Linked DNA regions of Homo sapiens: region 1 is linked to region 2. Evidence: fine-mapped expression QTL. A gene starts in region 2. The other region holds a variant in brackets. All regions are shown on one strand. Distances are from middle to middle.

Region 1 (5,354 bases), 28 kb after region 2:
TACGAGGGCAGGGACCCGGGCTTTGGGAATCAGAGCTGAGGCCTGGGGCCTCCCTGGGAGCTGGTGGTCTCTGCGGGTGCCCACCCTCAGCCCACATTTCCACCCCGCTTCCCCTCCCAAGGTTGAGACCAGGGAATGGTGGGCACCAGTGGAAGGCACGCTCCTCAATCTTTGCTGGGCTGAGTCCAAGGAGGGCCCCCTGCCTCCCCAGCCCAGCCTCCCTCTGCCCTGCCTCGCCCCTTAGCCCCGCTGCTGAGGAGGGAGAGGGGCAAAATCTCACCCTTCCTGCACTTGGAGAAAAAGAGGTTGCTTGTCCTGGGGTGGGGGCCAGCAGGGGACCTCGTTACTAGGGGGTCCCAGCCCAGACCCTCACCCACCCCCTTCCCCACCCCCATCCTCACCCCCTGCCAGGCCAGCTGCTGCCCCAGAGTCCTGCCCCCTGCAGCCCTGTGTGGAGCCCTGGGACTCCTGTGGGTGGGCCTCACCCTGCTGGGGACGGTCCAGCCACAGCGCCAGGGCCCCCAGAGGGGCCTGAACTTGCCTTTCCACAAGATCTGTCTCCAGCCTGGCCTCAGAAAGGAGCGGGTGAGTGGCCTCCAGGATGGGGAAGGAGGAAGGAGGGTGCAGCTGGGCCGATGGGCCTGACTGCCACAGTGAGCATGGCCCTCATGGCCCTGGAGAACCCTGCCAGGTGGGAAGAGCTCACGCCCTCTGTGCAGGTGGAGAAAGTGAGGCTCAGGAAGGCTGCCCACCCACTGGCCAGGGTCACCCATCCCTGTCAGATCCGGACTCCTGCCAGAGTCACGGGTGCCAGCCCAGCCTGGAACCCCTGCCTGGGGAGGGGGTCCTGGCCCTGCCCACTGCCAGCCCCTGCAGTTCTGGGGGAGTGGTGCGTCCTGGGGCTGGCGGTCAACACTTTCAGGCCGGAGCGCAGGTCCCAATTCAGGATGTTGGTGGCAGCCGTGGTCATGTCCAGCCTGCTCACCTGAGGCTGGGTGCCCAGAGCCCCTGCCGGGTGATGGGACTGCCCGGGGAGGGGAGACGGAGGGCTGTGGGGTGGAGACCCTTCATACAGACAGGCAGGTGGGTGGACCCCGTGGGTGGAAGGAGGCAGCGCCTGCCTTGAGGGAGCTCACCCACACCCTCAGCACAGCTGTGGGGCCCCTGCTTCTCCCCCGGGGCCTGCAGTTTGGAGGAGGAGCCTGTCCTGAGACCCAGGGGCAGGGGAAGATCAGGGCAGGGTGCAGGGCCCAGGGACATGGTGGCTGTGGCTGGGACATCCCAATTCCATGCATCCAGTGAGAACTTCCACGGGGAGGGGACGTGGTCAGAGGCGGGGACAGGCAGGCTGCCAGGAAGAGCAGCCTCAGGAAGAGTGGGGAGCAGGACCCTCCGGGAGGCCAGGAAGCCTCCCCTCCCCAGCTCATCCGACCTGCCCCTCCCCAAAGCCTTCACCCCAGCCTCTCCCCACCACAACCTCCTCCCACAGGGACCCACCCTGCAAACGCTGGGCCAGGACCCCTGTCCCGGAGAAGCAGCCAGCTCAGAACCCCCTTGGAGGCCGGGAGGGTGAGTCTTCCCTGCCTGACACCCCAAGAAAGGCCCAGAACTGCCCCAGGTTAAGGTCACTCCACATCTGTAATCCCAGCATTTAGGGAGGCCGAGGCAGGAGGATCAACTGGGGCCAAGAGTTCGGGACCAGGCTGGGCAACATGGGGAGAGCCCATCTCTACAAAAATAAAATTGAAAAATTAGCTGGGTGTGGTGGTGCATGCCTGTAGTCCCAGCTACTTGGGAGGCTAAGGAGGGAGGATTGCTTGGGCCCAGGAGGCTGCATTGAGCTGTGACCGTGCCACTGCACTCCAGCCTGGGCGACAAAGCAAGACCCTGACTCGAAAAACATAAATAAATTAAAATGGACACTCCAGGGAAGGTCTTGGTGTGGCCCCAGAGGGGGCATGATCAGCAGCCTGTCCCCAGCAGTAGGGTCCTGAGCCCTGCCTGACCCGCCTGCTCCGTGCAGAAGTGGGGTTGGAAAATGACGAGATGGAGGCTACGCCGAGACCAAGCGCCAGGAGAAGGGACCCAGGCCAAGCTGCTCGGTGAGGCCCTGAGCACGGCGGGAAGGGGCCATGCAGGACCCCCTGAGGGCTGGGCTGGGGAGGGAGGGGTCTCCCCAGGGCTCACCCCCCTTCTTGGCACAGGGCAGGGGAAGGAGCTGGATTTAGACCTGAGGGAGAAATTTATCAGATTTGACCAGATCCTGGGCATCAGCCTTGACCACATTCCCTTCCTGCCCCAGACTGGCCCCGGCAGGCCTTGGGGGTGTGGGGTAGGCAAGCAGAGACCACACTGATGCGGGGAGGTTGGCCCAGAGCCCTGCAGGCCAAAGCCTGGGGCCGGGCAGCAGTGTCCGCCGAGGAGAGGGTGTCTGGTGCCTGAATGACACAACCTGAGAGGCACCAGCCCCAATCCTGTCCGTGCAGCCCAGCGGGGAGGACTGCCCAGGAGACCATAGGGGTCCGGAGGTCAAGGCCAGGTGCCAGAGGGTCCTGGCAGGACCCGGGGTCACTGGAGGCACCCCACGTACACGGCAGGCGGAGGGGACGGCAGTGCCGGAGGAGGGGCTGCAGGGAAGCCCTTGTCAGCCCCCATTTCTGACCCAAGGGCCTTGGCCGGGAAGGCCAAGCTTGAGGCAAGAGGGTTCTGAGCTGGAAGAGGCCAGGCCCCCCAGACGCAGGGGCCCCGTGGGAAGAGGGAGGCCATGAGCTGAGGCCACAGCAGCTGAGGCTCTGAGAGCTGAGAGTGAGCTGGGGCCCTGC[C/T]GGAGCCTCGCTACCAACTGCTCCAGGTGTGGGGGACACTGCGGGGCCCAAACCTGGACACACCTGCGGCCTGGAGTGTCCCCCCCACCCAACCCAGGGCCTCTGAGGGTCTCTGCCCAAGCTCCTGGGTCCCCTGTACTGGGCCACCTGCAGCTCCCAAGGCAGCCCTGGGGGCAGGCAGGAGCCCCCGGGTCAGAGGTCGTGCGACCCTGGCCTTGGACCCTTGGGCCTCTGACCAGCACTCCTGCCTCACAGAAGAGCCCGTGGTGAGCCACGAGTGTGACTGCCAGGGGTCCTGGGGGTCCCGGGCCACTCTGGGATCCACGAGGCCCTCCTTCCTCCTGGCCCTGGCACCCCCTCCACCCCTCTCTCTCCTGCAGGTCTCTGCTTCTCCCTCCTCTCACTCTAGCCCCTCCGTGATTCTCTGCCTGGGCCGGCCACCCTCTGTCCTGAGGACGCTGGAGCCTGGCCCGGCCCTTGGCAGCCCCACCCTCACCGCCCATCCCAGCCTCGCTGGTGCCCCCTCCACGTGGGAGGCTCAGCCACACCTGCCCCCACGACCCCATCAGAAATAAACAGTCTGTGCCAGGAGAAGCCGGATCCGACTGTCCTTGAGCACTGGGTGATGGGTGGGCAGGGCCTCGGGGAGCAGCCCAGGTTCCAGGCCCAGGAGGAGCTGAGCTCGGACATTTGTCCTCATCTAACCCCCAGTGGCTGCCTCCCTCCCAGCTGGGTGCTCTCCTGGCCCGTCCCACGCTCTCTGGTGAACAGAGCCAGATTCATCCTCAAACATAGGCCACCCTCCATGGCGCCCAGCAGAAACTGCCCTAGGCTGGAGGGCTGGGACCGTGGGGTGACAGAGGCTGCGGAGGCCTGTGACCAAGGGTCCCTGCCCAGCTCCACAGCACCTGGCAGCCCTTGCCCCTGCTAGGAGCGCCCTTTCCTCACCGCTGGCTCTTCTCAGATCTGTGGCCCCATCCCCCTGGGTTGCCTCAAAGGAACCCCAGAGTGAGAGGCAGGAGCCCCCATCTCAGGGGCGTGGGCCCAGGCTCCCTGTGTGCCACCCCACGTTCCCCCGATGGGAGGCAGGAGTCCCTGAAGATCCAGGCCCAGCCCTGACCGGGGGTGGGCACAGAGGTGGGGAGCAGCCTCTGGGATCGGGTCTCCACCTGTGCCCTGCCGGAGCCAGCCCCTGCGCTGAATGGTACTTCCGGCTTCTGGTCTCTGTGGGGAGCGGTGCCCAGCCTGGTGCTACAGTGACCCAGGGGTCCTTAGGCGAGGCCCTCCCAGGCTTGGCCCCTGCCCAGACCCTGCCCTCCTGGGGAGCTCCCGCCCAGCCCCTAAATGGGTGAGGTGGGGACACTTTAGCCCTGACCTTCCATGGCCGAGCTGGGCGCTTCCTGAAGCCAGACTGGGCCTCAGAGGTCCACTGCACCGGGATCCTGGAGCTGAGCTTCTCGAGGCCAGGGGTGTGGGTGTGGTGTCGGGTGTGGGTGCGGGTGTGGTGTTGGGGGTTGGGCCGCCCCCTCCTCCCGGCCCTGCTACCTTTGGGATGCGGCAGCCTCTGACCAGCCTGCTGGACCCCACATTGGACAGATCGTTCAGCACCCCCAAATTGCCATCTGTCCCCCACAGACAGCCAGCCTAGCCCTGGCTCCAAAGCTGCAGAATTGGCTGAGGCTTGGCCATAACCGTCTTTGGACCCCATGGCCAGCAATGCACATATGAGCCTCAAGTCCCAGGGACATATCTGCTCCCCTATCCTCTGGCTTGTCCCGGGCTGCCCTGTCCTCTGCGCCGTCCCCGGCTGCTGGGCGGGCCTGACCTCCAGGGTGGTGCTGGGAGAGGTGGCCAGAGGCAGCCAGAAAGGGTGAGCGGAGAGGTGGCCGTCCCCCATGTCAGTGAACACCCAAACAGACAGGCACAGAGAGGAGGGCTGGGTGAAGAGTGGGTCCCATGTGCTTTGAGCAGCTCAGAGATGCCCTGAGGAGGGGCTGTCCCACGTGGCCCGTCCACTCAGGCCTCCTTCAATCACAGAGCAGCTCCCTTGACGCAGGGAGGCCTTGGGGAGAATTTCTTGCCCCTAGAGGAGCCCTGAGCTGCCCCCACCGCACCCGGCCCTGGTCTCCCCGGCTACAATCTCAGGGGTGCTCCTGCTCTGCCCCTGACTTGTCCAGAACACTCCACAGCGTCTCAGTGATCCCGGGCACTGCCCTTCCCTATGGAAGATCCTCAGCGGGGCAGCTCTGGCAGGAGTGAGCCTCTGGGGCCGTGAGGCTTGGGTACCTCTGAAAGGTGGGGTGTAGAGGCTGCCCCTCCCCAGTCCCAGGCTGGGGGAGTTGATCCCAGGCTGCAGGTGGGTGGGGCTCACGAGGTCCCCATGAGTTTATTTGAGGCTGGTGGACACTCAGTCGAGCTCAGCTCCCACCAGTCACTGGGACAGCCTCGGCCCTCAAGGGCAAACCATTGGTGGGGATGCTGGACAGGGTCATCACTGCCCCCGGAGGATGCTGGCCGGGGCCCCAGGGTGGA
Region 2 (5,354 bases):
CCAATGCCCCAAGGACATCACTCCAGGGCAGCTTCCTACCTCAGTGGTGTCTCTGGGGCTGTGAGCACCACAGAGGTCCGTGGGCACTGCCTGCTCCGGGGGCCCCAGACCTGAATCAGGCCCGTCGGTTGCTTGCTGGCCAGCGGCCCTGCCTGCGTTTGTTTTCACTGCTCATCCCACAGGCCCCAGGTCTGGGCTTGTGACCCCAGGGGCGAGTGAACGATCCCAGCTTTGCCTGTGGACTTGCTTGCTGTCTGCCCCTCAGGACCCCTGCCCGGCCTCCCCCAAGCTCCTAGGACCGAGGCGGGCAGCATGGCGGCAGGGGTGTACCGATCTGGTGTGGGGAGTAGGTGAGGCAGCCAGTGGTGAAGATGAGGTACTTGCTCTTGGCGCCTGTGGCACTGCGCTCGGGTGGCTTGGTGTGGCCCTGGGCCAGCAGCTCGGCCACCTTGGTCTCTAGCATGCGCTCCGACAGCTGTGGCTGCGCCCGCCCCTCCAGCACGCGGTCCAGAAAGTGCCGCAAGCCCTCCTTGGCGTGGGCGGGGGCCGGGCCAGCCACCACCTCCTCGTTGTCGCTGCCCAGGTCAAAGATGCGGCAGGGGGACGTGGCCGGGTCACCGGCTTCCAGCAGCAGGTCAGGGCTGTCGAAGCGGCTGCAGTCGGCCACCATCACCGTGCGGACGGTGCTGGCATTGAGGTTCTGGATCTTGAACAGCCGCTTCACCACGTTGACGTTCTCTGACTCCACATCCTGGGGGCGGGGGCACGTGCCAGGTGGGCGCCGGGCGCCAGGCCCCAGGAGGGCAGCCCCGCCCCTAGCCCCGCACGCACCTGGAAGGCATTGTTGAGCCACAGCACCGAGCAGGAGGTGATATCTCCGATGCGGTGCAGGTTCCCCGAGATGAGGCTGGTCTCGGTGAGCCAACAGCCAAACACGTCATAGGGCTTGTTCCGCACGCGGGACAGCAGCGCGAAGGAGTCTGTGGGGAGGCCGGGGCTGGACAGGCTGTCGGCGTGGGGCGGGGGCAGGGTCAACCCGCCGCCCGTGCTCACCTAGGCTGATGACAGCAATCTCGCCGGATGAGGAGTTGTGCGGCCCCAGGAACACCCCCGAGGCCAGCAGTAGCGAGTCGTCCTTGTTGAACTGGGAGAACTGGGTGTAGCTCCAGTTGTAGGGCCGCATGTCCGCGCTGTGCAGCAGCGAGATGGTCAGGTCGTTGCTCCAGATCTGTTCGGCAGGGGCGGCTGTAGTGATCGCCTGGCCAGGTCGCGGGGCGGGGGCCTGCTACTACACAGCCATGAGGCCCCAGCTCTGCCAGCCCTACTCAGAGGCCACCAGGGAGCAGGGACCCCTTCCAGCCACTGTCATCCACTCGGGGGGCATTGGTATAGAGCGGAGGAGCCTGCCCCTGAAGCAGGCGGCTGTGTGTGGGACCCTCTCCTCAGCACTCAGGGCCACCCTGCACCGCTCCTGATCCTCTGTGGTCCCTCCGCTGGATGCAGGGAGGCTGCTGTCACCTCTGGCCTGACCCACCCCCCCCCCCACCACCACCTGGTTGGAACGCCTGGGTCCTGGGACCTCCGTGCTGCGGCAGAGCTGGGTGGGGTGTGCAGGACACCTGGCCGTCCTCACCTTCACAGTGCAGTCCTTGGAGCAGGACGCGAACTGGTACCCGGAATGGGAGAAGCTGAGGTGCAGGACCTGGTCTGTGTGTTCCCGCAGCGTCTGCACCTCCACGCAGGGCACCGTGTCATACAGCCGCTGGAACTCCTCGTACCAGGACATGGCCGCTGCGGGTGGGCAGTTGTCAGTCCTGGGCCCGGGCCTTCCTCGCAGTCACGGCCATGAGCCGAGTGTGGCCCCAGCAGTCCTGGCAGGCCCCGTGGTGCCCCTGGAACCCACTAGTCATGGCATAGGCCTCGGCTGGGGGATTCAACCCTGTAGCTCACAGAGACCCCTGTACCCCCCACCCCCCAAGTGACCCAATGAACCCTCTGGCCTCCAAGCTCTGAGGGGCGCCTGCGCTGTGTCCTGACAGGCCTCTATCAGGGTGTGGGGGGGTGAGCATGGACACGCGGGGCCGCGGGGCGGGCCCCCAGCCAGGCTGACCCCCAAGCGCAGGGGCCCGGGGCCCTGGCTGCAGAACGTGGGTAGGGGCCCCACACGCCACTGACCTGGGTGTCGGGGCACGTCGCGGGCCACCTGGTAGTAGCGGTAGAACTGCTCCCTCCACAGGAACTCGTCCCGCGACACGGCCTGCCATTGGCGGCACACCAGCCCGGCGGCCAGCACGTCGGCCGGGCCCAGGCTCAGGAAGATCTGGTAGACCAGGCTGTCGGGGAGCAGGGGCGTGCCGCCCTCGTCCATCGTGACATTCTGCCCAGGCGGCCCTGAAACCCACCAACGGCTGCCCTCAGCCCAGGCCCGGGAAGGGAGGCCGAGAGCGGGCGTCCTGTTCCTCCAGCCCCAACCGTCCCGCCGGGAGTTCCACGGGGCTGCGTGTCTGCAGGGGACGCCCGGGTACCGCCGCCCAACCAAGGACCCGGCAGCTCCGGGCGGGCCGGGCCGGCCCCTCTCCGCCGCGTCATCCCCCGGCCTCCTGCGGCCGGCAGCGGGCGCCCCTCAGCCCGCCAGGGCCCGGACCGCCGCACGCGAGGCACGGGGACACCAGGCGCCGTCCGGGGACGGGCTTCCGCCGAGAGGAAGCTCGGGGCGGCCAGGCAGTGGCCTCCGCCCTGCGGCCCTGGAGCAGCTCTGCCCGGCGGGCTCGGGGCGGACGGCGGGGACGAGCGCACGGGCGGCCTCGGGGCTCCTGCACTCGCCCAAGGCGGGCGGGGACGACAAGGCGGGACCCCCGAGGGCCGCAGGCGCACTCACCACGGCCGCCTCCGCCCGCTGCGCCGCCCCCGCCCTGCGCGACCCGGACCCGCTTCCGCTGCCGCAGCCGCTCGGACCGCCGCCCCCGCCCAACGGGGAGCCCGCCAGGCCCGACGCCACGAGCCCCGAGGCATCGATGGCCGAGGAAGGCAGAGCGCGCGGGTAGCCCGCATCCGCCCCTCGTGCGCCTGCGCCTTGGGCTCCGGCGGCCTGGCCGGCTTTTCTTTGTGCGCCTGCGCGCACTCGGGCGCATTGGGAACAGCGCCCCTTGTGGCCAGCGGGCGGCGGTCGTGGGCGGGGTTGCAGGCGAGGCTCAACGAACGCTGGTTCGGGACCCGCCTCCGGCGCTCCCTGTTGCCGGGCCCTGAGCAAGTGGCTTCATGAACCCCGTGACGTTGGCCATGGAGATAAGACCACTGGGTGATGGTTTAAGGAAGATAACGTGTAAAGGGCTAAGGACTGTCGGTGGAAATCAGGGGTGCAGGAGAAATGGATAAACAGCCAGAGGTCAACTCGGACTTTGTACATAGGACATGGTGCCAGGGCCCTGCCAGGAAGTGCAGATCGAAGCTAGGCTCACGAGGAGGCTGGAGGTGGGGGGTGGGGAGGCAACGGATGGACATGGACTTCCTGGGCTGGGCTCTGTGACAGCAGAGTAGACTCTGTCCTGGGACTTGGTGGTGCTACCCTTGGCCTCCCACAGTCCTGCCACCCTGCTGCCGCCACCATGCTGCCCCCTGGGACTGCGACCCTCTTGACTCTGCTCCTGGCAGCTGGCTCGCTGGGCCAGAAGCCTCAGAGGCCACGCCGGCCCGCATCCCCCATCAGCACCATCCAGCCCAAGGCCAATTTTGATGCTCAGCAGGTAGAAGTTGGGGGGGGTAGAGGGAGGCAGGTAGAAGTTGTGGGAGGGGTAGAGGGAGACAGGTAGAAGTTGTTGCGGGGGAGAGGGAAGCAGGTGAAGTTGTGGGGGGTGTAGAGGGAAGCAGGTGAGGGGCCCTCCCACAGTGCCCTCGAGTTCTCCCATGGTCTGCCCCCAGTTTGCAGGGACCTGGCTCCTTGTGGCTGTGGGCTCCGCTTGCCGTTTCCTGCAGGAGCAGGGCCACCGGGCCGAGGCCACCACACTGCATGTGGCTCCCCAGGGCACAGCCATGGCTGTCAGTACCTTCCGAAAGCTGTGAGTCCCAGAGCAGCCCTGCACCCTAACCCCAACCCTCCTCTCAGCCCCCGGACTTCAGCCCTGCTCTGGCCCCTGACCCCACCCCGGCTGTGGCCTGGACTAGGATTCCTGGTTGGGGTCTCCCAGCCTGTGGTGCCTCCTCCCCGCCCCCCCAGGGATGGGATCTGCTGGCAGGTGCGCCAGCTCTATGGAGACACAGGGGTCCTCGGCCGCTTCCTGCTTCAAGGTGAGGCAGGGGCTGCAGGGCATGTGGGTGGGGGATGACGCAGCCACTGTGGCTCTCTGACATGGCTACTGTGGCTCTGCCCCAGCCCGAGACGCCCGAGGGGCTGTGCACGTGGTTGTCGCTGAGACCGACTACCAGAGTTTCGCTGTCCTGTACCTGGAGCGGGCGGGGCAGCTGTCAGTGAAGCTCTACGGTATGTGGGGGCCAGCCTCTGTGACCAGGCAGGCGCTCAAGCTCTGCACACTCACTGGGCCACCCCGAGGGGCTGGGTGAGCCCATGGGGACACACTTCCTTTCTCCCATCCTGATCCTCCTGCTAAGCAGGGGCCCAGGGAGTAGTGACAGACAGGCCTGGTGTGGGAGCAGGGAGAGGGCCCCGAGGGGGCAGGGGACACACAGACCCCGTTTCCAGAGCCCTCCACGCCGCCTGGTGCCAGGACCCCAGGAACCCTGTCTGCCCTGCAGCCCGCTCGCTCCCTGTGAGCGACTCGGTCCTGAGTGGGTTTGAGCAGCGGGTCCAGGAGGCCCACCTGACTGAGGACCAGATCTTCTACTTCCCCAAGTACGGTGAGTGTCCCCAGCAGGTCCCCAGCTCAGCCACCCCCACTCTCTGGGCTGATGTCCAGCCTGACCCCTGCCTTGGGCCCCCAGGCTTCTGCGAGGCTGCAGACCAGTTCCACGTCCTGGACGGTGAGTGCACAGCGGGGCAAGCATGGCGGCGTGGTGAGGGGGGCCACTGCCACCGGCTGAGTCTCGTCTCTGCTGCAGAAGTGAGGAGGTGAGGCCGGCACACAGCTCCAGTGCTGAGAAGTCAGTGCCCCGAGAGACGACCCCACCAGTGGGGTGCCCGCTGCCTGTCCTCCGTGAAACCAGCCTCAGATCAGGGCCCTGCCACCCAGGGCAGGGGATCTTCTGCCGGCTGCCCCAGAGGACAGTGGGTGGAGTGGTACCTACTTATTAAATGTCTCAGACCCCTCTCTGACTCTTCTGTCCACTCTGGACCGGCGCCAGTACCACCAAGGCCCTCTCTGCCCCCACCCCGCCTCTTTAAAAGCCCGGCGCTCCCTGTT

The links. PIP is the estimated chance that this variant, and not a neighbour inherited with it, causes the effect.
Region 1: its variant is the best candidate, but not a certain one, in a credible set for the expression of FBXW5 in whole blood (TOPMed, PIP 0.87).

Annotation. Positions count from the first base shown.
Region 1 is chr9:136,969,475-136,974,828 of GRCh38, forward strand. It overlaps LINC02692 (long intergenic non-protein coding RNA 2692), which reads left to right. Exons shown (of 5, transcript NR_157392.1): 2 at 412-585; 3 at 1,490-1,569; 4 at 2,024-2,102; 5 at 3,203-3,410. Among named protein-coding and RNA genes, the nearest start is that of LINC02692, 2.7 kb to the left of the region's middle. The variant C/T (reference allele first, on the strand shown) is at 2,823.
Region 2 is chr9:136,941,716-136,947,069 of GRCh38, forward strand. It overlaps FBXW5 (F-box and WD repeat domain containing 5), which reads right to left and starts at 3,023. Exons shown (of 9, transcript NM_018998.4): 1 at 2,879-3,023; 2 at 2,176-2,391; 3 at 1,634-1,791; 4 at 1,054-1,228; 5 at 832-980; 6 at 331-751. The coding sequence starts at 2,368. C8G (complement C8 gamma chain) reads left to right here and starts at 3,528. Exons shown (of 7, transcript NM_000606.3): 1 at 3,528-3,743; 2 at 3,919-4,055; 3 at 4,214-4,284; 4 at 4,370-4,477; 5 at 4,750-4,851; 6 at 4,936-4,974; 7 at 5,053-5,260. The coding sequence starts at 3,606. The coding sequence ends at 5,066. RefSeq lists an enhancer at 1,436-2,201 and silencers at 2,037-2,106, 2,487-3,066.